Regions from separate parts of the Homo sapiens genome. Here all the other regions are linked to region 1. The links come from fine-mapping of genetic effects on gene expression. A gene starts in region 1. Each other region holds a variant in brackets. All regions are shown on one strand. Distances are from middle to middle. Region 1 holds the start of CCDC180 (coiled-coil domain containing 180). Region 2 has its middle 29 kb from the start of SUGT1P4-STRA6LP-CCDC180. Region 3 overlaps LOC124902224 (a long non-coding RNA gene). Region 4 overlaps SUGT1P4-STRA6LP-CCDC180 (SUGT1P4-STRA6LP-CCDC180 readthrough). Region 5 holds the start of SUGT1P4-STRA6LP-CCDC180 (SUGT1P4-STRA6LP-CCDC180 readthrough).

Region 1 (6,172 bases):
GTGGACTGGCCTTAGCTGGCCGAATCTTCAAACACCTGCACCCTTTGCTTTGACGCCTGAGGGAGACAGGGTGCCCTGGCTCTGCCACTCATGTGTTCAGCCCAGTCTGGCCTCTGCTAGCCCTGCAGAGTGTCTAGAGGGAGCTGGGCCCTATGGGTAGTTCCTCTAGATTCCCACCTGGGACATCAGGCTGCCTGTAACCCTGGATGCCCACCTGGGGCATCAGGCAGGGTGATATGGGCTAGAGAACACTGACCTCGAGTCTGGGCTTGGGTGGGCCAGTGGATTTTTCTATCTGTTGGGAGTTCAGAGCATGAGGGTCAGGAGTTTTGGGGGTGGCTTTCCTGGGAAAATTCAAAGGCCAGGTCAGGGCAGAGAACTATACTCAGCAAGGGGTCTGTCCCTGCCCCAAAGAGGGTGAAAGGAACAACCAAGACAGGCAGCGGAGGCCTGCTTTCTATCTCAGAGTCCCAGGCCCAGCAAGGGTTTATGGCTTGTGTAGAACTCAAAGTGCCTAAGGGGAGCACCGCGCCTGCTCCATTCTCTCAAGAACCCTGGGAAGATCTGTTTCTTCCTTTTCCCCATAGCTGACAGTCAGAGCTCAGCGAACTGAAATGGCATGCTTAGGAACTTCTGAATTTGGAAGTTCACAAGAAACTCCTGATCTCCATGCCTGACCCCCGCCTGCTCTCATCTGAGGAAAATACATTTCTGCTGTTCACCCAGCACTCAGGCCAGAGACCAAGGGCTCTCAGGAGCTCTCTCCTCCCCTCCAATTCATCACTAGGTCTCATGGGTTCTGCCTCCAAGAGACACCCGAGGCCCACAGCTACTTTCCCTCTCACAGCCACCAACAAGGTTACAAGGACAACTGCAGTGTCCTGTGCCCTGGCCTTCCTGCCTCTTCTTGAAGCCCCCCACATTCTGCACAGAGCTGCCTGAGGGACTTCAAAAATGCAAATCAGCTGCTCACTGCAGTAAAGTTCAAAATACTGACTGTGGCCTGAAAGGCTGCTCCCAGCCTCATCTCCTGCCCTCTCTCAGGGTCCATTTACCTTCAGCCTTCAGGAGGGGGCCAAGACCACCTTTCTCAGAGCCTTGTCCCCATACTGCACCCTCTGGTTTCAGCTGATCCTCCTCCTCAGAGAGCTTTCCTGACCCCTGTCCCATAGCCCCATCCCCTTAATCAGAGCTTTTCTGCCATTGGGGGGATGTGCTTATTTATTTACTTTCGAGGTCTCAAGTTTCATAAGGGTGGGATCCCCATACCCAGTGCCTGGTCCTAGGCACTTAATCAATAATGACTGTGGGAGTGGGGGAATGGGGGCGAGAGAAGCAAACCATCCTGCAAGGTAGGTATTAGCCTCCCTGCTTTAGGGGTGGTACTTGAGACTTCATTCCTACAGGCTACTCATCTTGTGCTGGCTCTTTTTGAGTTTTTGAAGGCTCAGGTACCCTAGTGCATGGGGGTGAGGCATGGACAACAGGACCTACCTGTGGAGAACAGGGTTTTCCATGATCCAGTCGTTGGGGAGGCTGTGCATCCACTTCTGCTGTCGGGGAGACATCACCTCCCCTTCAGGAGTCTCCACCTTCTTCATCATGGGTATCCTGCCACTCTTCAGGGTCACAGAACGCTCTGCAGCCCGCTTCCTGGTGGCCGCCAGGGAGTGGACCAGCTGCACCTGAATCCAGGGAGGACCAAGGATGGGGGAGTGGTCAGAGCTGCTGACTTCCTAGCACTCTCAGGCTGATGGTGGCTGTCTAGAAAGACATCCAGAGAGCTGCCCCCAGGAAGGTACTTTTCAGGAGGCCTTCAGCCCCAGGTCATATCCCTATAGGAGAGCTCTCCTCCCAGTAACAGTCACTCAGCCACTTCAAAGAAGGCCTCTTTCTAAGAACCTTAAATGAAGATCAAGATGAACATCTCAGCCTTTTTTATAATCACAAGAAATTGGAAAAACAGAACTGACTAATAATAGGGATTGGCTGAGTAAACATGGTATGTCTGTTTGATGGAATGTTAGGCATTTGTTAAAGATGAGACCCACAAATAATTTTTTATAACCTGAGGAAATGCTTAGGAGATGATATATGGTTAAATATATCACTTACATGCATTAGAAATTATAGAATTATAGAAATTAGAAATTAGAAATTATAACCAAAACTATACCGTATGATCTCAAAATTTAAAACGCATAGGAAAAGGCCCTGGGGGAAGTATGCCATGAGTTAAGAATGGCCTTAGAGAGAGCAGGATCATGTGAGTGATGTAATTGTTGTTTTGGCTTCTTTATACTTTTATAATTTCCAGAGGTTTTACAGATAATTATTTAAGGCTTAAATTAGGAATGCAAATCCCTTTTAAATAAGCAGTACAGAACTTCAAAGGAAGAATTTGGGTCTGTGTGTTTCTTTTAAGATCTTGTTTTGTCTATACAGTGCTTTAGAGAGAACAAGGCAATTTCAACAACCTACACTGTTGTCAAGAGGGCTTTACTTTAATACAGTTATGGGAGTCCTAGGTCAACAAGTGGGGAGCTGCTCAGTATGGTGAAATACATGGGCGCCCACGGGCATAGAAAAGGGTCTGTGAGATACTGTTATGAAGAAAAAGCAGATTTCAAAACACTAGTACAGAATGAAACCTATTTTTTAAATACAAAAATTAGTCATGTTTTTATGCATGGGAAAAACAGAGGTCACCCAGTGGTTCCATCCAGGCTATTTCTGAGTAATTTACATTTAAAATTTTAATTTAAGTTTTCTAATTTTCAAGAACTGACATTCTAATTTTGTATTGGTACGATTTAAGAACAAGCAAGAATTATTTTTAAAATCAAAGTAATTTCAAAGCCCTTGTTTTATTCAATTTCCAGTAGGGAAGCCCTGGGAGGGAGGGAAGTTTGGAAGAAAGCAAGGGAAGGGGGATGGAGAAAAGCGGGACAGAGGGCGGCTCCTACCTCAGCCTGGAAGATCTGCTGGTAGGCTTTCCCATTCGGAACCTGGGTCACCTTCCCCACTGACGACATCTTGGCCGCTGGCTGGATGCCCCTGCCGGGAAGCCGTCGTCCAGGAAACGCGTCTAGGCTTTGGTGTCTCAATTCCAATTCCTGAGGTTGGGAAATCGCCCGTCCCAAACTCAGGTTCAGGTCCAGGCGGGACGACGTCTGGCCTCGAGGCGGCACCCCAGGGCAGGACTCCCCGGGGAAGGACTCTCTGCTGGGGGGTAGGCGGCTGGGGAACGTCGACTTAGGGTTTTAACTTTCAACGAAACGATGAAACTAACCTCAGATGAGCTCTGAACTCGAGCAGGAGGCCGGTTCTCCCCGCCGCGCATGGCGCAAATCCGAAGGGACTCTGGGAACGCGAATAATACAGGATTATTGCTTGTGCTTCACTCTGCCATGCTCTTCGGGGAAAAGTTAACGGCGCTCAAGGTGTCGGTTGGGACTGGAACTCTAATGCGGCGCAGAATTCGCATCCGGGACCCTAATCCACCCTCCATGGGACACAGGGAGGAGAATTGGAGGGAGAGAGTAACCTGATTCAGGTCACGCTAATTAGGCGCCTACTGTGTGCTGAGAAGACCCAACCAGCCTCTGCCATCCCCCTCCCTAGCCCGCCAAGTAGACTGAGCAGCCCCTGGCCGTCCCCCTGAGCCCGGTAGATTGGAGGGAGGCCTTGCGTCCGGCCTGGCCGCGTCCCCGCCTGCAGAAAGCACCTCTCAAGGCAGCCAGGGCCGGTCCAGCGACAACTGCAGCTGGACGCCCATGGTCTCCAAGGCAACGCGGAGGGGAGGGACTGCCCCGGCCCCGCCCACGCTTTTCTTCCCAGGGAGGGGAGATTGCTCTTAGCAATGGGAGCGCCCCACGTGGCGTAGTGAAACTCAACTATTTCTTTCAATGCCAGTTCCTCCTCTCTACAAGGACTACAACCCCAGGGCTGCCAGGAGCAGCACTATTAAATGTTCTGAAAGGTGGTAGGATATATGAGATGTAGCACTGAGCCATCACGGTCAACAAAGTCCATCCTAACTTATTTGCCTTGGTTAAAACCAATCTCTGCTGGGGGACAGCATACGGTAGTGTTTGCCTGTAAGTTAGAAGCTGAAAGACTCTGGAAGAAACCATCTCTTTCTCATTTTAAAAGAGGTTGAGAGCTCAAAATTCAGGGATCAAGGCTTGCCTGGCCAGAGATGAAAATGCTTGTGGTTGGCACTGAACGTGGCCTCGGGTTTCCCATACATATGAGACACCCAGTGCCGCCTTACAGAATCCCTCCCTTTGGCAGTGATATGTTACAACTGCTAATAAATGCTCCCTATGCCAATTTTCTAGAATGAGTGATTGTTCTGTCCAGACTAGAATCAGAAATTAAGAAATGGTGAGTATAAAACCCTTTTATTCTCATTCTTCAGTCCTGGGTTTTATTAACAAGGTGAAGTACTGTAACAAAGATTAGATTCATTTTAGCTGGAAAAAGAAAACGTGTAGGTGACTGAGGGAAGGGATGAAAACACAATAACAAATAGGTAATGTCCAGGAATTACTTGCAGTCTCATATCTCTTTCCCATCCAAGGAGGCCCTACTGGCTTTGGCCTTGAACACTAGAAACTATTTTCCCTACCCAGATGCTTTCTGGGTTCTGGTTCCAGGCACATCTGTAATTTAGGGGTTTCTTTCTTTTTAAAAATTATATGGCTATAAATAGCAGGCATGGACATGTGAAGTATGGGATTTTGTTTTGATTAAACTCCATATTTATTGTCAAAAATTAAAAAAAAATGAAAAACTTCAATGGAGAAAGTAAAAATAACCCATAATCCCAGCACTGAGAATTTACCTCCCTTAACTTCCAAGTTTTTGAGACTGTGTTTGAGTTTGCATCAAACGTGGAAATTCGTGTTTGCCTTTTGGATGGCATTTCCATTCTCCTCCCAACCTGATAATATCATAGCGAAAGACTAACCAGTTAGAGATCATCTGGTTAGTCCACCTCCTGTGTTTAGATACGGGCAAAAAGCCAGAGATAGGGAACGGAAAGAATGACACCAGGGCCTCTGGATCTTTTTCTTGTAGCTCAGCATCATCTTTGATCTTTTCCCTCTCACTCTTAACTTTGAAAATGTCTCTTGACCCCATCCTTTTCCTTCCTCTATCCCAGGCTATTGTCTGTCTTCTGCATAGTCCAGACAAAGCAGAGCAATGAGGACCACCACAAGAGGCAAATATTTAATGAGAAGATTTAATGCCTGTAGTGACTATGAGAGGGGTGCCTTAAGTAACCCATTTTACTGATTAAGAAACTGAAATTCAGAGTCAGTGACTTGGCCAAGATCTCCAAGATAGGAAGATCTAGGATATGAATCTAGACCCTGTAATTCAAGTCTTGAACCATCTGACCTGTGACTAGCCAGAAAAAAAGTTATTTAACCAACTGATTGGATGTGCATGTTGAAGCATAGCGTACATATCTAAAAGTATAGAAATCATAAGTGAATAGCTCAATGAATTATCTGAAAGGAACGTGCCTAGTAAGCAGTACCCATAAGAAACAGAGCATTACCAACTCTTCAGAAGCCCCTTTTGTGTACCTTTCATGTCACTGCCCTCTCTTCCCCCAGGATAACAAATATTCTAACTTCTGAATTGGTTTTGCTTCTTTAAAAATTTTATTTAAATGGAACCATAGAGAATGGACTCTTTTATGTTGGGCTTATTTCATTATGTTTGTAAGTTGTATACTTTTTTTTTTTATTGAGACGGGGTCTCATTCTGTCACCCAGGCTGGAGTGCAGTGGCACAATCATAGCTCACACTGTAACCTCAGACTCCTGGGCTCAAACAATCCTCCCACTTCAGCCTCCCAAGTAGCTAGAACTACAGGCATATACCACTATACCTGGCTAATTTTTATTTTTTGTTGAGACAGAGTCTCACTATGTGGCCCACGCTGGCCTCGAACTCCTAGATTCAAGTAATCCTCCGCCTCAACCTCCTGAAGTGCTGGGATTACAGGCATGAGCCACCAGGCCAAGCCCATATATATATTTTTAATGTGTCTATGGTTTATTTCTGTATAGTATCCTATTATTAAAAAATATATACCCCATTTTATTCATCCTATTATTGATACACATTTGGATTTTTTCAATTTGGAGACTAC
Region 2 (6,172 bases), 99 kb after region 1:
AAAAATATGTTGTTATTTCAGTGCTCTTTCCCCATGGTACTTTTAGGAATTAAAATGTATTTAAGTGTCAATTAGATGCCTAGAACTGCCCTAGACCTGCTGTGTATACAGTATTCTACTTACTGTAAGGCCTCATGGATTGTGTGATACCCTACTATTTTCTATATTAAGAAGATGATTTTTAAATGCTACCAATTATAGTTATAAAAAATTATGAATTATAAATACTATTCCAATATCAGATGCTCTGAAATGTGACCTAATCTTTAAATCATCCTGCAAAATAGCAATAATTGTATCATTTTACTTAATTAAAATGTTTTTGTTAAGGAGTAGTAATAGTAATAATTATAACATCTGGCTGAGTGCGTGGCTCACAGCTGTTATTCCAGAACTTTGGAAAGCTGAGGTGGGAAGTTCCCACCATGCTAGGAGTTTGAGACCAGCCTGGGCAACAAAGTGACATTCCTACTCTACAAAAAAATTTTAAAAATTAGCTGATCATGCTGGTGCACTCCTGTAGTCCCAGCTACTCAGGAGGCTGGGCAGGAGGATTGCTTGAGCCTGCGAGTTCCAGGCTGCAGTGAGGCATAAATACACCATTGCACTCCAGCCTGGGCAACAGAGCAAGACTGTCTCAACAAACAAAAATCTAACAATTATTGAGTTGTTGCTTGTTCTGGAAGTGGTTCTAAATGCTTTACATAGAGTCTCATTTAAGCATCACACTGGTGTCTTGTGAGCTAGCTGCTTTGTCATCTTTATTAATGAGGAAATTCAGGCACAGAAAGGCTAAGCAATAGCTGGTATGTGACTGAGTTCAAAGTGGAACTCAAACCCTAGTTGAACTGAATCCAAACACCAAGCTTATTCTATCCAAATAGGCTGCTGTTTCATTAAGGTAGGGAGCAGTAAGAGCTAATAAATATTGTACTTTCTTCAAAAGAAAATTGTTTGTTTTGAAGGCAGAGGAATAACATGCCATTCAATGTATACAATTACATGAACCATTGTAGGTTTTGAGATACTGCACTACATTTCCTGAAAACTCCTCTCGCTCACTTAGGACTGTTCTACATTTGGCCTGTGCCCATGGCCATGTGGAAGTGGTCACTCTCTTGCTGGGGAGAAGATGCCTGATTGACATCTGTGACAGACTAAACAGGACGTCTTTAATGAAGGTACATAGTAGCCAACTCTTTCAGCATGAAATGCATTTGATTTAAATACATAGAATTAAAATGAATTTTATTTTATTATTATTATACTTTAAGTTTTAGGGTACTTGTGCACAATGTGCAAGTTAGTTAACATATGTATACATGTGCCATGCTGGTGTACTGCACCCATTAACTCGTCATTTAGCATTAGTATATCTCCTAATGCTATCCCTCCCCCCTCCCCCAACCCCACAACAGGCCCTGGTGTGTGATGTTCCCCTTCCTGTGTCCGTGTGTTCTCATTGTTCAATTCCCACCTATGAGTGAGAACATGCAGTGTTTGGTTTTTTGCCCTTGCGATAGTTTACTGAGAATGATGATTTCCAATGTCATCCATGTCCCTACAAAGGACATGAACTCATCATTTTTATGGCTGCATAGTATTCCATGGTGTATATGTGCCACATTTTCTTAATCCAGTCTATCATTGTTGGACATTTGGGTTGGTTCCAAGTCTTTGCTATTGTGAATAGTGCCACAATAAACATACGTGTGCATGTGTCTTTATAGCAGCATGATTTATAATCCTTTGGGTATATACCCAGTAATGGGATGGCTGGATCAAATGGTATTTCTAGTTCTAGATCCCTGAGGAATCGCCACACTGACTTCCACAATGGTTGAACTAGTTTACCGTCCCACCAACAGTGTAAAAGTGTTCCTATTTCTCCACATCCTCTCCAGCACCTGTTGTTTCCTGACTTTTTAATGATTGCCATTCTAACTGGTGTGAGATGATATCTCATTGTGGTTTTGATTTGCATTTCTCTGATGGCCAGTGATGATGAGCATTTTTTCATGTGTTTTTTGGCTGCATAAATGTCTTCTTTTGAGAAGTGTCTGTTCATGTCCTTCGCCCACTTTTTGATGGGGTTGTTTGTTTTTTTCTTGTAAATTTGTTTGAGTTCACTGTAGATTCTGGATATTAGCCCTTTGTCAGATGAGTAGGTTGCGAAAATTTTCTCCCATTTTGCAGGTTGCCTGTTCACTCTGATGGTAGTTTCTTTTGCTGTGTAGAAGCTCTTTAGTTTAATTAGATCCCATTTGTCAATTTTGTCTTTTGTTGCCATTGCTTTTGGTGTTTTAGACATGAAATCCTTGCCCATGCCTATGTCCTGAATGGTAATGCCTAGGTTTTCTTCTAGGGTTTTTATGGTTTCAGGTCTAACATTTAAGTCTTTAATCCATCTTGAATTGATTTTTGTAGAAGGTATAAGGAAGGGATCCAGTTTCAGCTTTCTACGTATGGCTAGCCAGTTTTCCCAGCACCATTTATTAAATAGGGAATCCTTTCCCCATTGCTTGTTTTTCTCAGGTTTGTCAAAGATCAGACAGTTGTAGATATGCGGCGTTATTTCTGAGGGCTCTGTTCTGTTCCATTGATCTATATCTCTGTTTTGGTACCAGTACCATGCTGTTTTGGTTACTGTAGCCTTGTAGTATAGTTTGAAGTCAGGTAGCGTGATGCCTCCAGCTTTGTTCTTTTGGCTTAGGATTGACTTGGTGATGCGGGCTCTTTTTTGGTTCCATATGAACTTTAAAATAGTTTTTTCCAATTCTGTGAAGAAAGTCATTGGTAGCTCAATGGGGATGGCATTGAATCTATAAATTACCTTGGGCAGTATGGCCATTTTCACGATATTGATTCTTCCTACCCATGAGCATGGAATGTTCTTCCATTTGTTTGTATCCTCTTTTATTTCATTGAGCAGTGGTTTGTAGTTCTCCTTGAAGAGGTCCTTCACATCCCTTGTAAGTTGGATTCCTAGGTATTTTATTCTCTTTGAAGCAATTGTGAATGGGAGTTCACTCATGATTTGGCTCTCTGTTTGTCTGTTATTGGTGTATAAGAATGCTTGTGATTTTTGTACATTGATTTTGTATCCTGAGACTTTGCTGAAGTTGCTTATCAGCTTAAGGAGATTTTGGGCTGAGACAATGGGGTTTTCTAGATATACAATCATGTCCTCTGCAAACAGGGACAATTTGACTTCCTCTTTTCCTAACTGAATACCCTTTATTTCCTTCTCCTGTCTAATTGCCCTGGCCAGAACTTCCAACACTATGTTGAATAGGAGTGGTGAGAGAGGGCATCCCTGTCTTGTGCCAGTTTTCAAAGGGAATGCTTCCAGTTTTTGCCCATTCAGTATGATATTGGCTGTGGGTTTGTCATAGATAGCTCTTATTATTTTGAGATACGTCCCATCAGTACCTTATTTATTGAGAGTTTTTAGCATGAAGGGTTGTTGAATTTTGTCAAAGGCCTTTTCTGCATCTATTGAGATAATCATGTGGTTTTTGTCTTTGGTTCTGTTTATATGCTGGATTACATTTATTGATTTGCGTATATTGAACCAGCCTTGCATCCCAGGGATGAAGCCCCCTTGATCTTGGTGGATAAGCTTTTTGATGTGCTGCTGGATTCGGTTTGCCAGTATTTTATTGAGGATTTTTGCAT[C/G]AATGTTCATCAACGATATTGGTCTAAAATTCTCTTTTTTGGTTGTGTCTCTGCCCGGCTTTGGTATCAGGATGATGCTGGCCTCATAAAATGAGTTAGGGAGGATTCCCTCTTTTTCTATTGACTGGAATAGTTTCAGAAGGAATGGTACCAGTTCCTCCTTGTACCTCTGGTAGAATTCGGCTGTGAATCCATCTGGTCCTGGACTCTTTTTGGTTGGTAAGCTATTGATTATTGCCACAATTTCAGATCCTGTTATTGGTCTATTCAGAGATTCAACTTCTTACTGGTTTAGTCTTGGGAGGGTGTATGTGTCGAGGAATTTATCCATTTCTTCTAGATTTTCTAGTTTATTTGCGTAGAGGTGTTTGTAGTATTCTCTGATGGTAGTTTGTATTTCTGTGGGATCAGTGGTGATATCCCCTTTATCATTTTTTATTGCGTCTATTTGATTCTTCTCTCTTTTCTTCTTTATTAGTCTTGCTAGCAGTCTATCAATTTTGTTGATCCTTTCAAAAAACCAGCTCCTGGATTCATTAATTTTTTGAAGGGTTTTTTTGGTCTCTATTTCCTTCAGTTCTGCTCTGATTTTAGTTATTTCTTGCCTTCTGCCAGCTTTTGAATGTGTTTGTTCTTGCTTTTCTAGTTGTTTTAATTGTGATGTTAGGATGTCAATTTTGGATCTTTCCTGCTTTCTCTTGTGGGCATTTAGTGCTATAAATTTCCCTCTACACACTGCTTTGAATGTGTCCCAGAGATTCTGGTATGTTGTGTCTTTGTTCTCGTTGGTCTCAAAGAACATCTTTATTTCTGCCTTCATTTCGTTATGTACCCAGTAGTCATTCAGGAGCAGGTTGTTCAGTTTCCATGTAGTTGAGCAGTTTTGAGTGAGTTTCTTAATCCTGAGTTCTAGTTTGATTGCACTGTGGTCTGAGAGACAGTTTTTTATAATTTCTGTTCTTTTACATTTCCTGAGGAGAGCTTTACTTCCCAGTATGTGGTCAATTTTGGAGTAGGTGTGGTGTGGTGCTGAAAAAAATGTATATTCTGTTGATTTGGGGTGGAGAGTTCTGTAGATGTCTATTAGGTCCGCTTGGTGCAGAGCTGAGTTCAATTCCTGGGTATCCTTGTTAACTTTCTGTCTCGTTGATCTGTCTAATGTTGACAGTGGGGCGTTAAAATCTCCCATTATTATTGTGTGGGAGTCTAAGTCTGTTCGTAGGTCACTCAGGACTTGCTTTATGAATCTGGGTGCTTCTGTATTGGGTACATGTATATTTAGGATAGTTAGCTCTTCTTGTTGAATTGATCCGTTTACCATTATGTAATGGCCTTTTTGTCTCTTTTGATCTTTGTTGGTTTAAAGTCTATTTTATCAGAGACTAGGATTGCAACCCCTGCCTTTTTTTGTTTTCCATTTGCTTGGTAGATCTTCCTCCATCCTTTTATTTTGAGCCTATGTGTGTCTCTGCATGTGACATGGGTTTCCTGAATACAGCACACTGATGGGTCTTGACTCTTTATCCAATTTGCCAGTCTGTGTCTTTTAATTGGAGCGTTTAGTCCATTTACATTTAAAGTTAATATTGTTATGTGTGAATTTGATCCTGTCATTATGATGTTAGCTGGTTATTTTGCTCGTTAGTTGATGCAGTTTCTTCCTAGCCTCAATGGTCTTTACAATTTGGCATGATTTTGCAGTGGCTGGTACTGGTTGTTCCTTTCCATGTTTAGTGCTTCCTTCAGGAGCTCTTTTAGGGCAGGCCTGGTGATGACAAAATCTCTCAGCATTTGCTTGTCTGTAAAGTATTTTATTTCTCCTTCACTTATGAAGCTTAGTTTGGCTGGATATGAAATTCTGGGTTGAAAATTCTTTTCTTTAAGAATGTTGAATATTGGCCCCCACTCTCTTCTGGCTTGTAGAGTTTCTGCCAAGAGATCCGCTGTTAGTCTGATGGGCTTCCCTTTGTGGGTAACCCGACCTTTCTCTCTGGCTGCCCTTAACATTTTTTCTTTCATTTCAACTTTGGTGAATCTGACAATTATGTGTCTTGAGTTGCTCTTCTCGAGGAGTATCTTTGTGGCGTTCTCTGTATTTCCTGAGTCTGAATATTGGCCTGCCTTGCTAGTTTGGGGAAGTTCTCCTGGATAATATCCTGCAGAGTGTTTTCCAGCTTGGTTCCATTCTCCCCGTCACTTTCAGGTACGCCAATCAGACATAGATTTGGTCTTTCACATAGTCCCATATTCCTTGGAGGCTTTGTTCATTTCTTTTTATTCTTTTTTCTCTAAACTTCCCTTCTCGCTTCATTTCATTCATTTCATCTTCCATCACTGATACCCTTTCTTCCAGTTGATCACTTCGGCTCCTGAGGATTCTGCATTCTTTACATAGTTCTCAAGCCTTGGTTTTCAGCTCCATCAGCTCCTTTAAGCACTTCTCTGTATTGGTTATTCTAGTTATACATTCTTCTAAATTTTTTTCAAAGTTTTT
Region 3 (6,172 bases), 74 kb after region 1:
TAGTGATAATGGACTTCCTTGTCTTGGTTGTAAAATCAAGAGGAAAGCATTCAATATCAAGTGCTTTTTCTGCCTTTATTGAAATGTTCATATGTATTTTTAATAATAATATGTTACTGTTATATAATAATAATTTTAAAATAATATTTTAATAATAATGTTACAATGTAACCAATTACATTGGTTAATTTTCAAATGTTATCTAAATGGCCAATTGTCCTTCCGGATCCCCATTGATTCCGATTGGGATGGCACTGTAAGAGAGGCAGAACCAGTGAAGGAAACAAGGTTTTTTCAGGAGTTATATACAGGGGTGGTCCAGTGGTGGTGGGCTGGCCTGGAGAAATACTACCGTTCGTATTAAAAAAAAAAAAGCATGTAGTCCATATAGCATATAGCATTTTCACTTAGAACCCTCCTTCTAGCAATCTCCATTTAACCCAAAACAAAGGGCCTCGATCACCTGTACAGCCTGTGTTCCAAGGGATGGGGCAGGGATATGGCTGTCCTTCATAGATAAGTAGTGAATCTCAGTGTTGGCTACTCCCGGATTCCTTAGCCTGGGACTCCAAACACACTTAGAATAGGGTAATTCTCAGGTATGCTCCAGTTATGGCTCAGCCATACACCAAGGTGTATACACCAACCCCTGCCATGCACCAATATGCATATAAATATGAATAGCCTCTGAAAGGGCGAATTCCTAGATTGACCTATAGGCCCACATGAAAAGTTCTATATTAATAGCTATGTCATGACTGGGTGCAGTGGCTCATACCTGTAATCCCAACACTTTGGGAGGTCGAGGTGGGTGGATCCCTTGAGGCCAGGAGTTGGAGACCAGCCTGGGCAACATGACAAAACCCCATCTCTACTAAAAATACAAAAATTACCTGGGCTTGGTGGTGCACACCTATAATCCAAGCTACTAAGGAGGCTGAGGCACAGGAATCACTTGAACCTGGGAGGCAGAGGTTGCAGTGAGTGAGATGGCACCACTGCACTCCAGCCTGGGCAACAGAGTCAGACTCTGTCTCAAAAAAAAAAAATAGCTGTATCATGGACATTGAAATTATAATGAGATACCAAAACTACCACCAGAATGACTTAAATTAAAAGGATTTCCAATACCAAGCATTGACAAGGATATGGAGCATTTTTTAGAGAGAATGACCAAGGAGTTGGCTACAGTCAGGTGCTGCAGAATCAGATCTGTGGACCTTAATGTGCATCTGGTGAAATAAATAACTATAATGGTGATGAAGAAAGCAATTGCCCAGGAATCCTACTGTGGTCTGAGATAAGAAGATCATATTCCTATTGCCACATCCCTGGAGGCCATTTGTCTTTTTTCAATGACTGATCATCCTATTCAGAGTGAGAGGATCTGGCATGGAAACAAGAGGCCTGTCGTACCATGGCAACTGAAAGCCACTCTTTCCCACTTACCATTGTTTTCAAGCCATTAATTTCCTATTAAACTTCATTTTCCTCTTCCTGAGAGTTTCACTATAAAAATATATGTGTGTATAGATATATATTCCTAGCATAAGAGTACTATAATAGTGTTTTACATAGAACTTTTACAACAATTCTTTGAAGTGCTTTATTGTTCCCATTTGACAGGTGAGGCGATCTCAGGCACAGGAAGGCTGAATGACATTTCCAAAGTCACCTCCTTGTAAGAGGCAGTGTCAGAAGCTGACAATGGACTTGACCACTATGCTGTCGTAGCAACAGAGAGAAATAATTTTTAAGACAATCCATGTATTTAAAAAATATTTTTGTACCTCTTGTGAGTTTTTAAAAGAATCGTTTTGAGTTTTTTCTTTTTGATTGTGATTGAAAACACCAATACTTGTTTTATAGGCAAATATCATCTATAGTGATCAGAGATCCAAGTAAAATATAGATAGTCTGATCTTAGCATAATCTTAGAAGAATAATTATATACAACCAAATGGAATTTCTTAAATGCACAAATGGAATTAAAAGAGGAGGTTCTTTTCCATCTTAACCAAGAAGGAGGGCATAATGGAATGACCGTGTGCTAAGCAAGGGAGAAGGAAAACGAGTAGGAGGGAAAGCATTGCAGAGGAGAAACTAAATTACCATGAGTGTAGAAAAAAAAAAGTGAGGACTGGAGAATGTGAAAATATCAAATATAGTATTTCAATGTCAGAACAGTTCACTATATTAAAACTCAAGTCCATTATGCACAAGAAAAACTGGAGGTAATGATTATACATTGACCCAAAATGAGCACTGAGCCTGGGGATGACATGAAAACATTTTTAAACAAGAGGAAAGATAAAAAATAATGCAATTCTGAAAACTGCTGAGGAGCATAATGTTTTTTTCTAACACAAAAAGCTAAATTCAGTTACTTT[TCTTTG/G]CTGATTTAATGAGGGAAAAGAGTCTCACCATAATAAAGAGACAATAGATTTTTTCTGTCATGACACACTTATGGTCTCCATTTGGTATATTCTATGCACAGAGTTGTTGAAAACACTATATTTACTATTTCTGAACAGAATAAGATAATTCAATCAGCTACATCTTATACATGATCACAGGCATGGAGGTGTCATAGAAACACCTCTACAAATCTTGGAAATGTTCATGCAGATAAGACAGGGCAGCGGGCAAATTAATTTCCAAATTATATTAGAGAACTTAAAAATAGGCTGGATGTGATGGCTCACGCCTATAATCCCAACACTTTGGGAGGCTGAAGCAAGAGGATTGCTTGAGGCCAGGAGACCAGCCTGAGCAACATAGGGAGAGCTTGTCTCTACAAAAATTTTTTTTAAGTTTGCTGAGTGTGGTGGCACATGCCTGTGGTCCCAGCTGCTCAGGAGGCTGAGGTGGGAGGATCGTTTGAGCTGAGGTATTCGAGGCTGCAGTGAGCCACAATTGCACCACTTCACTCCAGCCTGAGAAATAGAATGAGACCCTGTCTCAAAAAAAAAAAAAAAAAAAGATTTCATGACTTTATTCAAACCAACAATGATGAACAGTGAGGATTACATTAAATGAGAAGCAGTTAGGGGCTGGTTTATGGTCTTGACCTCCATTCCTTCTCCACGAGTGCAGCCCACGACCCAGTGATGATTTCCCCTTCCCTGCATTGCGTTGGCACCGACTTAGTTTCTAGCCCAGAATTCCGTTTTCCAGACAAAAGACCCTGCTCCATCTCCCAGCACACTTCCTTCCTTTGCAGGCTATGCCTTCTAGACTGAAATAGAAAATACTCACCTGATTTTTCCCTTGTTGCTGTGACAATAGGTGCAGGGTGATGCTCAGGACAGCCAGTGGGTGAGTGCGTGGAGGAAGGCATCCAGGTCTCAGATATGGGTTTGTGTCCTGTGACCTCACCTTTTTGCAGCACTGCAATGAGCATTTCACCTGCGGCAACAATGACAGTGCATATTTGGGGAGCTAAAGATATTTCAAGAAACTTTGTCCCAGTTACCAATTACCAAAAACAAGTACAATTTTCTATGAAGGGGGCCAGCCCCTCCACACCTGTGGGTGTTTCTCATCAGGTGGAATGAGAAACTGAGAAAAGAAAGAGACACAGAGACAAAGTATAGAGAAAGAAAAGTGGGCCCAGGGGACGGGCGCTCAGCATATGGAGGACCCGCCCTGGCACCAGTCTCTGAGTTCCCTCAGTATTTATCGATCATTACCTCTACCATCTTGGAGAGGGGGATGTGGCAGGACAATAGGGTAATAGTGGGGAGAGGGTCAGCAGGAAAACATGAACAAAGGTCTCTGTGTCATAAACAAGGTTAAAAAAAGGTGCTGTGCTTTGATGTGCACATACACAAACATCTCAGTGCATTAAAGAGCAGTATTGCTGCCAGCATGTCTCACCTCCAGCCCTAAGGTGGTTTTCTCCTATCTCAGTAGGTGGAACATACAATCGGGTTTTACACCGAGACATTCCATTGCCCGGGGACAAGCAGGAGACAGATGCTTTCCTCTTATCTCAACTGCAGAGAGGCCTTCCTCTTTCACTAATCCTCCTCAGCACAGACCCTTTACCGGTGTCGGGCTGGGGGATGGTCAGGTCTTTCCCTTCCCATGAGGCCATATCTCAGGCTATCACATGGGGAGAAACCTTGGACAATACCTGGCTTTCCTAGGCAGAGGTCCCTGTGGCCTTCAGCCTTCGCAGTATATTATGTTCCCGGGTACTTGAGATTAGAGAGTGGTGATGACTTTTAACAAGCATACTGCCTTCAAGCACTTGTTTAACAAAGCACATCTTGCATAATCCTAAATCCATTAAACCTTGAGTCAACACAGCACATGTCTCTGCGAGCACAGGGTTGGGGCTAGGGTTACAGATTAACAGCATCTCAAGGCAGAAGAATTTTCCTTAGTACAGAACAAAATGGAGTCTCTTATGTCTACTTCTTTCTACATAGACACAGTAACAGTCTGATCTCGCTTTCTTTTCCCCACATTCTAGTGGGCATCTCTAGCAAGATGAGAGTGTTTGGCAGAGGCTCTTGCTTTCCATAATCCCTGGAGGCAACAGGAAGGGGCTCCTAGGGAGGGAGCAGGAAGGGGTGAGTCTAGACTGAGGGGCTAGCAGCAGAGCACACGCGTCTTACTAGAGTCTGTGCTTTCCTGAGATGGTCCCCTACAGAAAACCCAATTTTCTGTTAATCCTCAGATTCCTGAGCCAAACTATTATTTCACTGTGAACAGAGAAATGGGATCATGCGAGGAACTTGAGAAGGATATGTGAACAGATTACAGTGCAAACAGCAACTTGAAGTCAAATACTGATATGAAAAATAAATGGGAACAATGTTGGGCATTCCAATGTAAATTAACAATCAAATGTAGATGTTATATATTCTATAAATATATATTTTATTAACATTTACCCCTAGAGAAATAGAGATTCTAAATTGTATAATATTTATAAAAGAAACAGAGACATTTATCAGAGTCCCTCATATACACAGAAGCACCAAGTTCATATGATCCAGAGAGAAATTCTACTAGTAAACTAACTGATAACCTGACGCTACCTAAACTATTCAAGTCTTAGTCAATCTTCCCAATAGTTTTCAGGAAGGGTGCATAAAGGTGATATGAGATCTTACCCTGGTTTGAGCCATGTATTACAAAAGTATAGGACGTGTGAATATAAATGTAAACTTTTAAATATTAGAAGCCATTGTGTCAGCACATTGAAACATTACATCATAATCCACTGCCTTTTGTGCCAGAAATGCAAGTGAGAGTCAACACTTGGAAATCCATTAATACAATTAATTATGTTAAGAGAATCAGTGAGAATGTTATGTGTTCATGTCCATAGATTTAAAAAAAGACATTGCCAGGATTCTGCAGAAAATCATATTTTAAAAATTAATAAGGAACTAGTGTAAAATATATACATATTTTTAGACAGGGTCTTGCTCTGTCACCCCAGCAAGAGTGCAGTGGTGCAATCATAGTTCACTGTAGCCTCAGCCTCCTGGGCTCAAGTGATCCTCTTGCCACAGCCTCCCCAGCAGCTGGGACTACAGGCACATGCCAGCACACCCGGCTAATTTTTTGTTTTTTTGTATTTTGTAGAGACAGGGTCTCACTATATAGCCCAGGCCAGTCCTGATCTCCCAGCCTTAGTGGATCCTACTGCCTCAGCCTCCCAAATTACATGCATGAGCCACTGCGCCTGGCCCTAAATGTTTCTTGAGAGCAAAATCTACTTTCTATAAAGGCGGGCATGAGTCAACCCTTTCAAAGCCATTAGGGGCCAGGTGTGGTGGCTCATGCCTGCAATTACAGCACTTTGGAAGGCCGAGGCAGGTGGAACACCTGAGGTCAGGAGTTCCAGACCAGTCTGGCCAACATGGCAAAAAACCCCTTCTCTAGAAAAAATACAAAAATTAGTTGGGCATGGTGGGCACGCCTGTAGTCCCAGCTCCTCAGGAGGCTGAGGCAGGAGAATTGCTTGAATCTGGGAGGCAGAGGTTGCAGTAAGCCGAGATTGTGCCATTGCACTGCAGCCTGAGCAACAGAGCAAGATTCTGTCTAAAAAAAAAAAAAAAAAAAAAAAAAAAAAAAAAAAAAAAAATTAATAAACTATTAGGACAGTCTTGGAGGAAAAAGTCTTGGAAGAAAAAGTCTCTTGGGTAAGGAT
Region 4 (6,172 bases), 56 kb after region 1:
CTCAAAGACTTACATAGGAATGAGGGATATGAAATGTATTCATAAACTACTATACAAGGAAGAAAAGTAGTTGCTTAGCATTTAAAGAAGAAAGGGGAAGAAAGGCAAACTGAGAACATAGTAAGTAGGACTGAAGAATGGTTAAAATAAACAAATGCAAGATTCAAAACAGAAAAAAGAATGAGAGATGAGAGTGCTTAATTACATCCTCAACTCTAGCCACACAGATCTGTGTATTTACCACACATGCTATTCTTCCACCAGTGTATGAGATGGCTCAGTAATGCAAGCTCATTATCATTTATTCACACTCAATTTAAATTACTTCAAATGGACACGCATTACCAATCTCTTGATAGACATACACCAAAAAAATCAAATTCATAATTTTTGGAAATATCTCCCTTTCAAATCTACCTAGAGTTTTGTGCTTGGTTACTCAAAATTATTTTATTAAACAAATTCTACACCATGTGGATATGACCAGAAACAGACCAAAATCCTGATAAGGGCCGGGCATGGTGGCTCACGTCTGTAATCTCAGCACTTTTGGAGGCTGAAGTGGGTGGATCACCTGAGGTCAGGAATTCGAGACCAGGCTGGCCAACATGGTGAAACCCCCGTTTCTACTAAAAATACAAAAATTAGCCAGGCATGGTGGCGTGTGCCTATAACCCTAGCTACTCAGGAGGCTGAGGCGGGAGAATTGCTTGAACCCAGGAGGTGGAGGTTGCAGTGATCTGAGATCATGCCGCTGCACTCCAGCCTGGGCAACAAGAGCGAAACTCTGTCTCCAAAAAAAAAACTTGGTAAGATTTCATCCCTTTTCTCACTTTCTATTGTCCCAAGCAGCTATTTCATAAATCTGCCTCATAATTAACCAGCTCTGTTCTTCACAATCTTTAAATAAATAAATAGGCAGATCCTTTTTAGCTAGATGCAAAAAAACTACTTCACTTTGCACTTCCTTCTCCAACCCTCTGAACCTGTCTCCTTTCTACAGGTCTAGTTACCATTCTTCATGACACAGGCCAACCCTGATCCTATTCCACGATAGGAAATTTCACATGTCCTTAGAACTTCAACTTAATAAATAGTAACAGTATGCTGCAGAACTTTGTATAAAAAAGGAGTAGTGGCCAGGCACTGTGGCCCACACCTGCAATCCCAGCACTTTGGGAGGCCAAGGCGGGTAGATCACTTAAGGTCAGAAGTTCGAGACCAGCTTGGCCAACAATGGTGAAATCCCATCTCTGTTAAAAATATAAAAATCAGCCGGGCATGGTGGCAGGCAACTGTAGTCCCAGCTACTCAGAAGGCCGAGGCAGGAGAATCACTTGAACCCAGGAGGCGGAGGTTGCGGTGAGCTGGGGTTGTACCACTGCACTCCAGCCGGGGCAACAGAGAGAGTCTCTGTCTCAAAAATTAATTAATTAATTAATTAAACATAAAAAAGGAGTAGTAATGGAAAAAGCCTACCTATATCATTTATTCGCCTGAACTCATTTATCATTATACCTTCATATAATTTTACAGCTGAAAGGACTCCAGAGCTCATTTGGTCCACGGACCTCCTTTCAAAGGTACTAAAAATTTAGTCATAGTCATTTTGTGCCTAGAGTAAATTCTCAGGGCTAGCAAAGATCCAGAGTCAGATTTCTTGATTTTCAGTTCAGTACTTTTCTTACTAAATTACACTATTATCTACATTTTTTTTTTAACTGAGGCAGAGTCTCACTCTGCCACCCAGGCTGGAGTGCAGTGGCGTGATCTCAGCTCACTGCAACCTCCATCTCCCAGGCTCAAGTGATTCTTCTGCTGCAGCCTCCAGAGTAGCGGGATTACAGGCGCATGCCAACACGACCAGCTAATTTTTGTATTTTTAGTAGAGATAGGGTTTCGCCATGTTGGCCAGGCTGGTGTATAACTCCTGACCTCAGGTGATCTGCCCAACTCGGCCTCCAAAAGTGGTGGTATTACAGGTGTGAGCCACCACGCCTGGTTATTATCTACATGCTTTGAGTGATAGTTAAATATTCTCCGAATATTAATTCTATTGTATAGCTTTATTTCTTTTTGAAAATATAAAGGAATCTAAAACTTAAACTGTAATTTTTCATTGTTCCCTCATAATGAAGTAACATAATATTTAGCTTAATTAAAAAACAAAACAAAACAAAAAAGCAGATTCATCTTTATGGTAGTTTGTCCTTTTTTTTTTTTTTTAGACGGAGTCTCACTCTGTCATCCAGACTGCAGTGCAGTGGCATGATTTTGGGTCACCGCAACCTCCACCTCCTGGGCTCCAGGGGTTCTCCCACCTCAGCTTCCTGAGTAGCTGGGATTACAGGCGCCTACCACCACACCTGGCTCATTTTTGTATTTTTAGTAGAGACAGGGTTTCACTATGTTGGTCAGGCTGGTCTTGAACTCCTGACCTCAACCGATCCACATGCCTTAGCCTCCCAAAGTGCTGGGATTACAGGCATAAAAATCTGCACTCAGCCTAAAAAGCTTTTTAAAGAAATAGAATATATTAGCGGGCTTGGTGGGGTGACATGCACCTGTAGTCCCAGCTACTTGGGAGGCTGAGGTAGGAAAACTACTTGAGCCCAGGAGTTTCAGGCTGCAGTGAGCTATGATGGCACCACTGCACTCCAGCCTGTGTAACAGAGCAAGACACTGTCTTTTAAAAAAAATAAAATTAAAAGTTACTTTTATTCAATTCCACCATAATTTTTAATAACTGAAAAGACTTGAAGGTCTTCATGCCCAAAACAATAAACATTACACTGAATTAAAGATAAACATTTCCAATTTTCCTTAACTTTTGTCTTAGCCTATCATAAAAAGCCCTACAAGTGATTCAAACTGTTGGACCTAAATAAATGTAATAAGGTTTTAGTAAGGAACAGATAAATAATCATTTTGACCATACTAAAACATACGAAATCGATTTTAACCACACGATAAATTCATTAAAATAGCCCAATAAATTTCATGACTAGAAACTTCCATATTTATGAAAAAATGGCTTTATTTCAGTTCCTAGAGGAACCAGTACTTAAATGGAATTGCTTAATATTTAGCTGACAGAGAGCTCATCCTGAGTCCTGTCTCAAATATATTGGGTACTTGAAATTTAACCTAAGTAAATAAAAACATGAAGAATGAAAACTCTGGACTTACCACCTCAGATTCCGAGCCTATTAAAACATAAAAAGGAAGAATTTTCAGTTAACAGTACATTTAAAGGCAAAGGTATTTATATGATTTTTATTGCACAAACATACTGATTAAGCAAGCCAATTCTCCATACCTTTCAACTAAAGAAAAGTGGGTTCATTTTGCCTCCTGAATTCATTTTAGACTCCTTAGTAATTTCTTTTTTTGAGACGGAGTCTCGTTCTGTTGCC[C/T]GGGCTGGAGTGCAGTGGTGTGATCTTGGCTCACTGCAACCTCCGCCTCCTGGGTTCAAGTGATTCTCCTGCCTCAGCCTCCCGAGTACCTGGGGCTACAGGCACGCACCACCACGCCCGGCTAATTTTTGTATTTTCTTAGCAGAGACGGGGTTTCACCATGTTGCCCAGGATGGTCTCAATCTCCTGACCTCGTGATCTGCCTGCCTAAGCCTCCCAAAATGCTGGGATTACAGGAGTGAGCCACCGGGCCCCGGCCTAGACTCCTTAGTAATTTCTTACTGATATGTCATACCAGCAAATTCACCCAAATCTCCTTTTCAACCTAAGAAGCTAGGCAAAAAACATTATATTTTTGGTAGTCTACATTTAAGGAAACATGTATTATTTAAAATAAATTATAAAGGTAAAAACAAATTTGTTTAAACCAAAAAATTTCAAATGTTTACTTCTTTTTAAATTGAAATACCATGGGAGATCTACATACCATTCTGAGCTTCGACACCTTTTAATCCAGTCACTGAAATTAGCATCTGCACCTAGAAAGAAAAACCTATCACATCACTCATCTGCACAACCTGTTAATCAGCAAATACTTATTAAATACCTATTACATCCCAGGCACTGTTCTAGGCACTGGGGAGTCAGCAGTGAATAAAACCTGTCTTAACAGAACTTATGGCAAACTCTGTTATAGCTATAAACATACCAATAGTTTAACACTTGGTTGTTTATCCTGAAACATTTTGATTTTTTTAAATTAATTTTAACTACAGTAAACCTCACTAATTTCATAGATATAAATAATGCACATTTCCCTCAATCCCTCTGCCCTTAGAGAAGCTTCCTCATACACACAACAAAGTCAGATCTAAATCAGACTCCCAAAATGCCATTAGTTAGGGTGGGGAGGAGGCTTGGTAACTGGGAGCTGAGTTGAGGTCCTTAAGCCTTTCCCAGCCCCAGCTCACTCTTCAATGCAGCTACCTATTCAGTCCACTATTCTCTCAGTGGCTTTATCTGTTCCCATCCCTTTCCTACCAACACCAAGAAGCATCTTTAAATTCTGTGAAGTTTTCTCATATATCCAAGTTACATGGGGGTCAAGAGGCTACAGGTGATAAATTATATACTTACAGATAATAGTGTAAATGTAGGCGTAAACAAATTATTCACTTCTGGAGACACAGAACAACGATTACATCTATACACAGTGCATAGTGAAATACGTTAAAAACATCGAGAGTACTCTAAATAAAAGCCTACTAATTCAAGTTAACTCCAGCCAAGAGTAATCTGGAAATTTTAAATTAAAAATCTCTTAAAACAAAATTTTCTAATTTACTAATTTATAAAAGAAATACAACTACATGGGCCTTAATAAAAATTTTAAATATACTGTCTCACATACACTATATTCTAGAGAAGAGGGTTTGAATAACTTATTATTTTAAATAATCAGTAACTAAAATCAGGCAGTCTAACATACAAAGAGGGGAAAAGGTAATATTCTGAGTTATAAATTTTTTACCCTGTCTGATAAAAATAGAAGCCTAAAAGTTTAACTTAAATTTTTCCTGGATTTAAATGTAAAGATAAATTTGTTTTTTAGTGAAATATCCTCAATAGCAATTTTACCAAAGAGGCCTTCTTCTGAAGGCCACCTCTGAAGTAATTAGAGAATAAATGTCAATGGCATGATATTAAGATATTATTCGGCCGGGCGCGGTGGCTCACATCTGTAATCCCAGCATTTTGGGAGGCTGAGGCGGGTGGATCACGAAGTCAGGAGTTTGAGACCAGCCTGGCCGACATGGTGAAACCCCCATCTCTAATAAAGATAAAAAAATTAACTGGGCGTGGTGGCACGCACCTGTAATCCCAGCTTCTCTGGAGGCTGAGGCAGGAGAATCACTTGAACCCGGGAGGCAGAGGTTGCAGTGAGCCGAGAATGCACCATGCACCATTGCACTCCAGCCTGGGAGACAGGGCGAGACTCTGTCTCAAAAAAAAAAAAAAAAAAAAAAAAAAAGAAAGAAAGAAAGAAAGGAAAAAAGGAAGGAAAGAAAACTCAAGAAAGGAAAGAAAACTCAAGAAAAGAATTTAGGGGCCAAGTGCTGTGGCTCATGTCTGTAATGCCAGTGCTTTGGGAGGCCAAGGCAGTAGGATCACTTGAGGCCAGGAGTTCAGAGACCAGTCTGGGCAATGTAGCGAGACCTCATCTCTACACAAAAATGTTTAATGAATTAGCTTAGTGTGATGGTACATGCCTGTATTCCCAGCTACTCAGGAGGCAGAGGCAGAAGGACAGCTTGAGCCCAGGAATTCAAGGCTGCAGTGAACTATGATGGTGCCATTGCACTCGAGTTTGGGTGAAAGAGTAAGGCTCTGTGCCCCCAGGTCCAAAAAGAAGAAAAAAAAAAAGAAAGGAATTTAGGCAGGAAACTTTTCTATTGCTCTTAAAAGTAATAAGGCCTAGAAATGTAGAGGATGAGGTCAGGCATAAAGGCTCACGCCTGTAACCCCAACACTTTGGGAGGCTGAGGCAGGTGGATCGCTTTAGCCCAGGAGTTCAAGACCAGCTGTTGTAACAGGGCGAAACCCTGTCTCTGCGGAAAAAAAAAGCAAAATTTAGTGAGATGTGGTGGCACGTGCCTATAGCCCCAGTGACTTGGGGGGCTGGGGTGGGTGAATCACTTAAGCTCAAGAGGCGGAGGCTGCAGTGACCCAAGATCACACCACTGCATTCCAGCCTG
Region 5 (6,172 bases), 68 kb after region 1:
TGATGGCCTGGCCTCTCTCCACTTGTTTAACCTTTATCTCCTAGCACTTGCCTCCTCACATTTTATGTGCTAATACTACTGAACAACTTGTATTATTCCCCAAACAGAACAGTTATGTAGTATTTACCATGTGCCTGGCACTGTACTAAGCATATGATACAGGGTACCTCACTTATCTTCAAAATAAACCTTTCAAGTAGGTCCTATTTGTTCCCATTTGACAGATGAGAAATCTGCTCTGGACTGATGACAGGAACCTTACTGAAGTTACACCGTTATCATGAAACCAGAACTTTGACCCAAGAGTCTCTGACTCCAGAGCCTGGGTTCTTAACCACCACACACACTGGGCCCTGAACGATTCTCAAAATTCACACGTTTTCTCTCCCTACTGAATTTTGCAACCTCCTCTGTAAAGTTTTTAACTCCCTCAGTCGGATTCTATTCTGCTACGCTCATTTTATACACAACCCCATTACAGTAGTTACCTTATATTTTAATGATCTGTTGACTTGTCTTTCCACTAGACTGAAAACTCACTCACTGAAGCTTATCCATCCTTAGATTCCTGATTTCCAGTACAACATTCACCACTTAATGTTCATTCTTTGTTGAATGAATGAAAAATGTGAAACAGCCTATGTGATAAGAACATTCCCCTTTATTCCTAATTGGATGACCTTATATCAAATATACACATTTTAACTCACATGATACCAAGTGACCTGAATCCCAAATGCCTGTTAAAGTAGCCCTTGGGACAATCCAGGAGAAATACACTCACATTCATCATCAAAGTTTCGGCCCTACTTATCATTACCAATTATTTAATAATTTACATTGACCTGTTCATCTTTGTGAGGTCATCTCACAGTTTAAAAAGAACATTTCTTCTTAACACAGCTGGTTCTTATCATGATCATCCTCCCCACACCCAGGGTTTCTGATTCTGGGTCTGTGGTGGGTCCTGAGAATTTGCATTTCTAGGGCCAGGCATGGTGGCTCACACTGTAATCCTAGCACTTTGGGAGGCTGAGGCGAGTGGAACATTTAAGGCCAGGAGTTCGAGACCAGCCCGGCCAACATGGTGAAACCCCATCTCTGCTAAAAATACAAAAATCAGCTGGGTGTGGTGACACACGCCTGTAATCCCAGCTAATTGGGAGGCAGCGGCAGACTCACTTGAACCTGGGAGGCAGAGGCTGCAGTGAGCTGAGATTGCACCACTGCATTCCAGCCTAGGCGACAGAGCAAGACTCCATCTCAAATAAATAAATAATTTGCATTTCTAATATGTTGATGCTGCAGCTTATCTGGAGCCCACACCTTTGAGGACCACTGTTCTATAGCACTAGACTAAAATTTGGAAAACCTGTGTCCTAAGGCCCCCCCCTTCTGCCTGTAACTGGTGTGTCTCTATGACAGATCATTTGGATTTATTTGAATCTCTGTTTACTTTTTAAGAAACGGGGTTTCTTTATGTTGCCTAGGCTGGTCTTGAACTCCTGGTCTCGAACTCCTGGTCTCAAGTGATCCTTCCACCTCAGCCTCCCAAAGTGGTAGGATTATAGGCATGAGCCACCACGCTTAGCAAGGTCTGCTTTCTTATGTACACTGGGAAAAGGAAGAGTAAGAAGTACTGGACTACATGAGTCATAAGGACTTTTTTTTTTTTTTTTTTTTGAGATGGGATCTTGCTCTCTCACCAAGGCTGGAGTGCAATGGTACAATTTCGGCTCACTACAACCTCCACCTCCTGGGTTCAAGTGATTCTCCTGCCTCAGCCTCCCAAGTAGCTGGGGTTACAGGCGCCTGCCACCATGGCCCAGCTAATTTTTTGTATTTTTAATAAAGACGGGGTTTCACTATGTTGGCCAGGCTGGTCTCAAACTCCTGACCTCAGGTGATCCACCCGCCTCAGCCTCCCAAACTGCTGGGATTACAGGTGTGAGCCACCGTGCCAGGCCCATAAGGACTTTCAATAAGAATCTGCACTTCTAGTGAATTGCCACGTCATGCTGTTACTGCTGGCCCAAGAGCCACACATTAAAAACCAAGGTACCAGTGCTAACCACATGACTATTCTATCCAGTTCTACTCCTAGGTATATACAATCAAAAGAAAGAAATGCATGTGTTCACCAAAATACACAAAAGAGTACTCACAGAAACTTTATTTATGCTAGCTAACAACTAGAAATAAACCAGACGTCCAATTAGAATAAATTGTGCTATACTTACATTTATACAACATATATTTATACAATTATACAATGGAATACTACACAGCAATGCAAAAGAACTACTGCTTCACACAATATGGATGTATACTCATGGAATGATTAAAGCAAAAACAGACTGCGTACATTGAACAAAGCACCTACTATATGATTCTGTTTATGAGTCCAGAACAAGCAAAACGAACAGATGGTGATGGAGGTCAAAACAGTAGTCAGCAGGACAGTAAGAAGAACTGCTGGCTGGGAAGGAGCATGAAGGAACCTTATGAATGGAAATGCTCTATATCTTGATCTGGGTGGTGTACACGTATCTAAAAACTCATCAAACTGTAGACTTAAAATTTGTGTTATTTACGTATGTCATATATGCCTCAATAAAAAATTTAAGGCCGGGCATGGTCACACCTATAAACCCAGCACTTTGGGAGGCCGAGGTAGGCAGATCACCTTAGATCAGGAGTTTGAGACCAGCCTGGCCAACATGGCAAAACCCCATCTCTACTAAAAAGTACAAAAATTAGCCGGGTGTGGTGGTGTGCGCCTGTAATCCCAGCTACTTGGGAGGCTGAGGCAGGAGAATCGCTTGAACGTGGGAGGCGGAGGTTGCAGTGAGCCGAGATCATGCCATTGCACTCCAGCCTGGATGACAGAGTGAAACTCCGACTCAAAAAAAAAAATTAATAAGTAAAAGAAGATAGAAAGTGACAATGAAGTTTATTATATTAATATTCTTTAAAAGCAACTTTTTTTTTTTTTAAGACAGAGTCTCACTCTGTCACCCAGGCTG[G/A]AGTGCAGTGGCACAATCTCAGCTCACTGCAAACTCTGCTTCCCAGGTTAAAGCAATTCTCCTGCCTCAGCCTCCTGAGTAGCTGGGACAACAGATCCACACCACCACACCCCGCTAAAGTTTGTTTTGTATTTTTAGTACAAACAGGGTTTCACCATGTTGGCCAGGTTGGTCTCAAACTCCTAACCTCAAGGGATCCACCCTCCTTGGCCTCCCAAAGTGCTGGGATTACAGACATTAGCCACCGCGTTGAGCCTAAAAGCAACTTTTATACAAACTGGATTTCCAAAGGATGCACTAGCCCTAACATGACAATTAAGAAATGTAAATTCAAAGTAATAGCTATCTAATATAAGAAATTACAGAGAAAAATTTTCACTGCTTCCTGTAACATTATCCCAAAACTGATCCCAGAAGCCTTATTGCTGGTATCTAAAGGTCTATATATTTAGATTCAAAAAACATACCTGGGCCCTAAAAGGCCATACAGGACGTGGCTCCGAGTTTCCTGTCCAACCTTATCTCCTAATCAAATGGGCCCTCTAATAAAAAGGGCCTTTTTGCTGCTCCATACACAGGCCAACTTCATGCCTACTTCAGGATCTCTGCACTGGCTCTTGGTCCTGCCTGGAATGCTCTTTCCCCAGAACTTCTAAGCGAATTCTCTTGCTTCTTCAGGTCTCTGCTCAAATATCACCTTAACAGAGGCTCCAGCACCCTATGGCACATTTCTTATAAAAGCCATAGCTAGAAAAGACGCCGTCTTGCCTCAAATTGTTAACGTTACTTATGTTAGATTATAACAACAAAACAGGGTGTCCTTTTTTATGTGCTTTAAAGCAAAAAACAAACAAACAAAATGAAAAACAAAAACCTCCTGGTTAAATTCTGTGACCCACAGCATCATTTATCTTTAGGCTCTTCTTTAACTCCTATTATTTAACTCTTGCTCTTTTACATTCCTTTACAGCTTTATAGTTTGTCTTCACTGCACACCTGCAAGAAGTGATTTCTTGGTTAGCTAAGTATATAACTAAGACTAACCCATAGCAATCAGCGCCTTTGCACACAGCAACTCCTAAAACATTTTTTGATGAATAAACAAATGAGTGAATAATGAACTATGACAAGACATCTGGAAAGTTTCAGGGACGTGAGGGAAAAGGTTTTTGTTCCAGTAGACTGACTTCATACCGGCACTTTTACATAAGAATGGCAACAATGATGTCAAACGAAAAAATTAATTTTCATCGAGCCCAGAGTCCACTTTTCTCTTCTAGTCATAACTGCCATTAAAAAAAAAAAATCCTTTCAGCCCAACTACAGTTGTCAACCATGTTCCCAATAAATGGAGGAGGTTTTTCTCAGAAGTGCAGGAATGCAAGAGTCTGGAAATGGAAAGGGCAAGACAGGAGTCTGAGGTAACGCGAGGAGACTGAGAATCTCAATACTGGGGCGGACACGCAGTAACCACAGGACCCTGGGTCCCAATCAGGTGCTGCTGGGAGGAGGCGCGTCAGCCAGGGGTGGAGGAAGCAGAAAAGGCTCTCTCACCTCTAACGCCGCAGTGGATTAGAGCATCTGAGAAGCTCTGGAAAAAACCTCTCAGGAAAACAACGACTTCAGCAGGACCCACTAGCCAAGGAAAGGGGATAAAATAAATAGCAAAGGGAAGGAAAAACACGCACCTCTGGGATGCTGCAGGTCCTGTTGCAGCCGCCGCCATCCCTCGAAGCCACCGTTGCTTCTGCCAGAGCTGCTACTAGCGCGCTTATCAGCTCCGCCACCGCCCAAGGGGGAAACTTCTGCAGAAACCCCAACCGAGCTTCCGTCGTAAGTAGCCAACGAGCAGCCACGCAGCGTGCTGCTAGCGGGGCGGGAGGCTACGCGCGGGCGCGTGGCCTGCTGGGGCAGTGGAGGACCGAGTCTTCCCAGCCCGCACCCTGGCCTGGGACCCGCGCTCCCAGTCCCGGGACCCGCGCTCCCAGTCCCCGCCCCTAGCAGCCATGGTTATGGAGGCCCGGGCCAACACGTTCTCCTTCTCTTCCACCGCGCCCACTGCTGCGGTCACTCGGACCAAGCCTCCAGGAGTAGTAGCTCAGAAGCACTTTTGTAGCATACCGTTACCCCTCAGGAGCTTAGCGGTTAAGGGCGTTTGCATGTCTTTTAGTAACACAAGCTCCAGGCCGGGCGCCGTGGCTCACGCCTGTAATCCCAGCACTTTGGGAGTCCGAGACGGGTGGATCACGAAGTCAGGAGTTCAAGACCAGCCTCGCCAAGATGCTGAAACCCCGTCTACGAAAAATACAAAAATTAGCCGGGCGTGATGGTGGGCGCCTGTAATCCCAGCTACTGGGGAGGCTGAGGCAGGAGAATCGCTTGAACCTGGGAGGCAGAGGTTGCAGTGAGCCGAGATCGCGCCACTGCACCACAGCCTGGGCGACAGAGCAAGACTCCTTAATAAATAAATAAATAAATAAAAAATAAATAAAATAAGCTACTTCGAGCTCCGTTTTCCCTAGGTTTTATCATGGCTGCCACAGGTGGCCAAGCCCTTTCGTCTCCGTGATGTCACTGGAGGCTGCGTGGTCTTTTCAGGGAACAGAGGGGCCTGGATGGCGCCTGGATTCCGGCGATCGTTGCGCTGGGAATGGAAAAGGGCTGGGACTCGCTGGAAGTCGTTCTGAACTAATAGAGCTAAAGGCCTTCTGGTTCCTGGGGAGACGCGCCTGGCCCCCGTGTACTATTCATTCCCTTCCTCATAACTCCACAGCCCAGGCTTTCTTCTTAGTGGGCTTCCTAGACCGAAAGTGATCTCAGGGCCGCTTTGTTTCCCATCCCGGTCGGTCAGGCCCTCCGTCAGCGCCCTTTGACCCATGCAGATCGGATGGGGAAAGCTGCCAGCGCCTTCCAGGGATGGGGGCAGAATGGGGAGCTGGAGGGAGTGGTCTTTTTCTAACTTTATACCACTATCAAACTGTGTTAATTCATGTAGCTTTATAATAAGTCTTGAAGTCCTGTGACTTTATTCTCCCAAGATTGCTTTGGCTTATTCTAAGGCTATTGTATTTGTAGGTGAATTTTGGAATTAGCTTGTCAGTTTAAAAAAAAAACAAAACTGCTAGGATTTGTACTGGGCTTGCGTT

The links. PIP is the estimated chance that this variant, and not a neighbour inherited with it, causes the effect.
Region 2: its variant is fine-mapped to the expression of CCDC180 in whole blood (TOPMed, PIP above 0.99).
Region 3: its variant is fine-mapped to the expression of CCDC180 in whole blood (TOPMed, PIP above 0.99).
Region 4: its variant is fine-mapped to the expression of CCDC180 in whole blood (TOPMed, PIP above 0.99).
Region 5: its variant is fine-mapped to the expression of CCDC180 in blood mononuclear cells (TOPMed, PIP above 0.99).

The regions. Positions count from the first base shown.
Region 1 is chr9:97,304,927-97,311,098 of GRCh38, reverse strand. CCDC180 (coiled-coil domain containing 180) reads right to left here and starts at 3,440. Exons shown (of 37, transcript NM_020893.6): 1 at 3,293-3,440; 2 at 2,967-3,116; 3 at 1,495-1,685. The coding sequence starts at 3,035. SUGT1P4-STRA6LP-CCDC180 (SUGT1P4-STRA6LP-CCDC180 readthrough) reads right to left here. Exons shown (of 45, transcript NR_036529.1): 13 at 3,293-3,363; 14 at 2,967-3,116; 15 at 1,495-1,685. RefSeq lists enhancers at 3,235-3,735, 3,678-3,972 and a silencer at 3,678-3,972.
Region 2 is chr9:97,206,382-97,212,553 of GRCh38, reverse strand. It overlaps the pseudogene ANKRD18CP. Among named protein-coding and RNA genes, the nearest start is that of SUGT1P4-STRA6LP-CCDC180, 29 kb to the left of the region's middle. The variant C/G (reference allele first, on the strand shown) is at 3,679.
Region 3 is chr9:97,230,438-97,236,609 of GRCh38, reverse strand. LOC124902224 (a long non-coding RNA gene) reads right to left here. Exons shown (of 3, transcript XR_007061684.1): 2 at 3,259-3,408; 3 at 1,593-1,725. It also overlaps the pseudogene ANKRD18CP and the pseudogene VN1R52P. Among named protein-coding and RNA genes, the nearest start is that of SUGT1P4-STRA6LP-CCDC180, 4.9 kb to the left of the region's middle. RefSeq lists an enhancer at 3,853-4,450. The variant TCTTTG/G (reference allele first, on the strand shown) is at 2,391.
Region 4 is chr9:97,248,575-97,254,746 of GRCh38, reverse strand. It overlaps SUGT1P4-STRA6LP-CCDC180 (SUGT1P4-STRA6LP-CCDC180 readthrough), which reads right to left. Exons shown (of 45, transcript NR_036529.1): 3 at 3,904-3,955; 4 at 3,190-3,206. It also overlaps the pseudogene SUGT1P4 and the pseudogene SUGT1P4-STRA6LP. Among named protein-coding and RNA genes, the nearest start is that of SUGT1P4-STRA6LP-CCDC180, 13 kb to the right of the region's middle. The variant C/T (reference allele first, on the strand shown) is at 3,417.
Region 5 is chr9:97,237,110-97,243,281 of GRCh38, reverse strand. It overlaps SUGT1P4-STRA6LP-CCDC180 (SUGT1P4-STRA6LP-CCDC180 readthrough), which reads right to left and starts at 4,856. Exons shown (of 45, transcript NR_036529.1): 1 at 4,715-4,856. It also overlaps the pseudogene ANKRD18CP, the pseudogene SUGT1P4 and the pseudogene SUGT1P4-STRA6LP. RefSeq lists enhancers at 4,455-4,614, 4,623-5,448 and a silencer at 4,401-4,695. The variant G/A (reference allele first, on the strand shown) is at 3,027.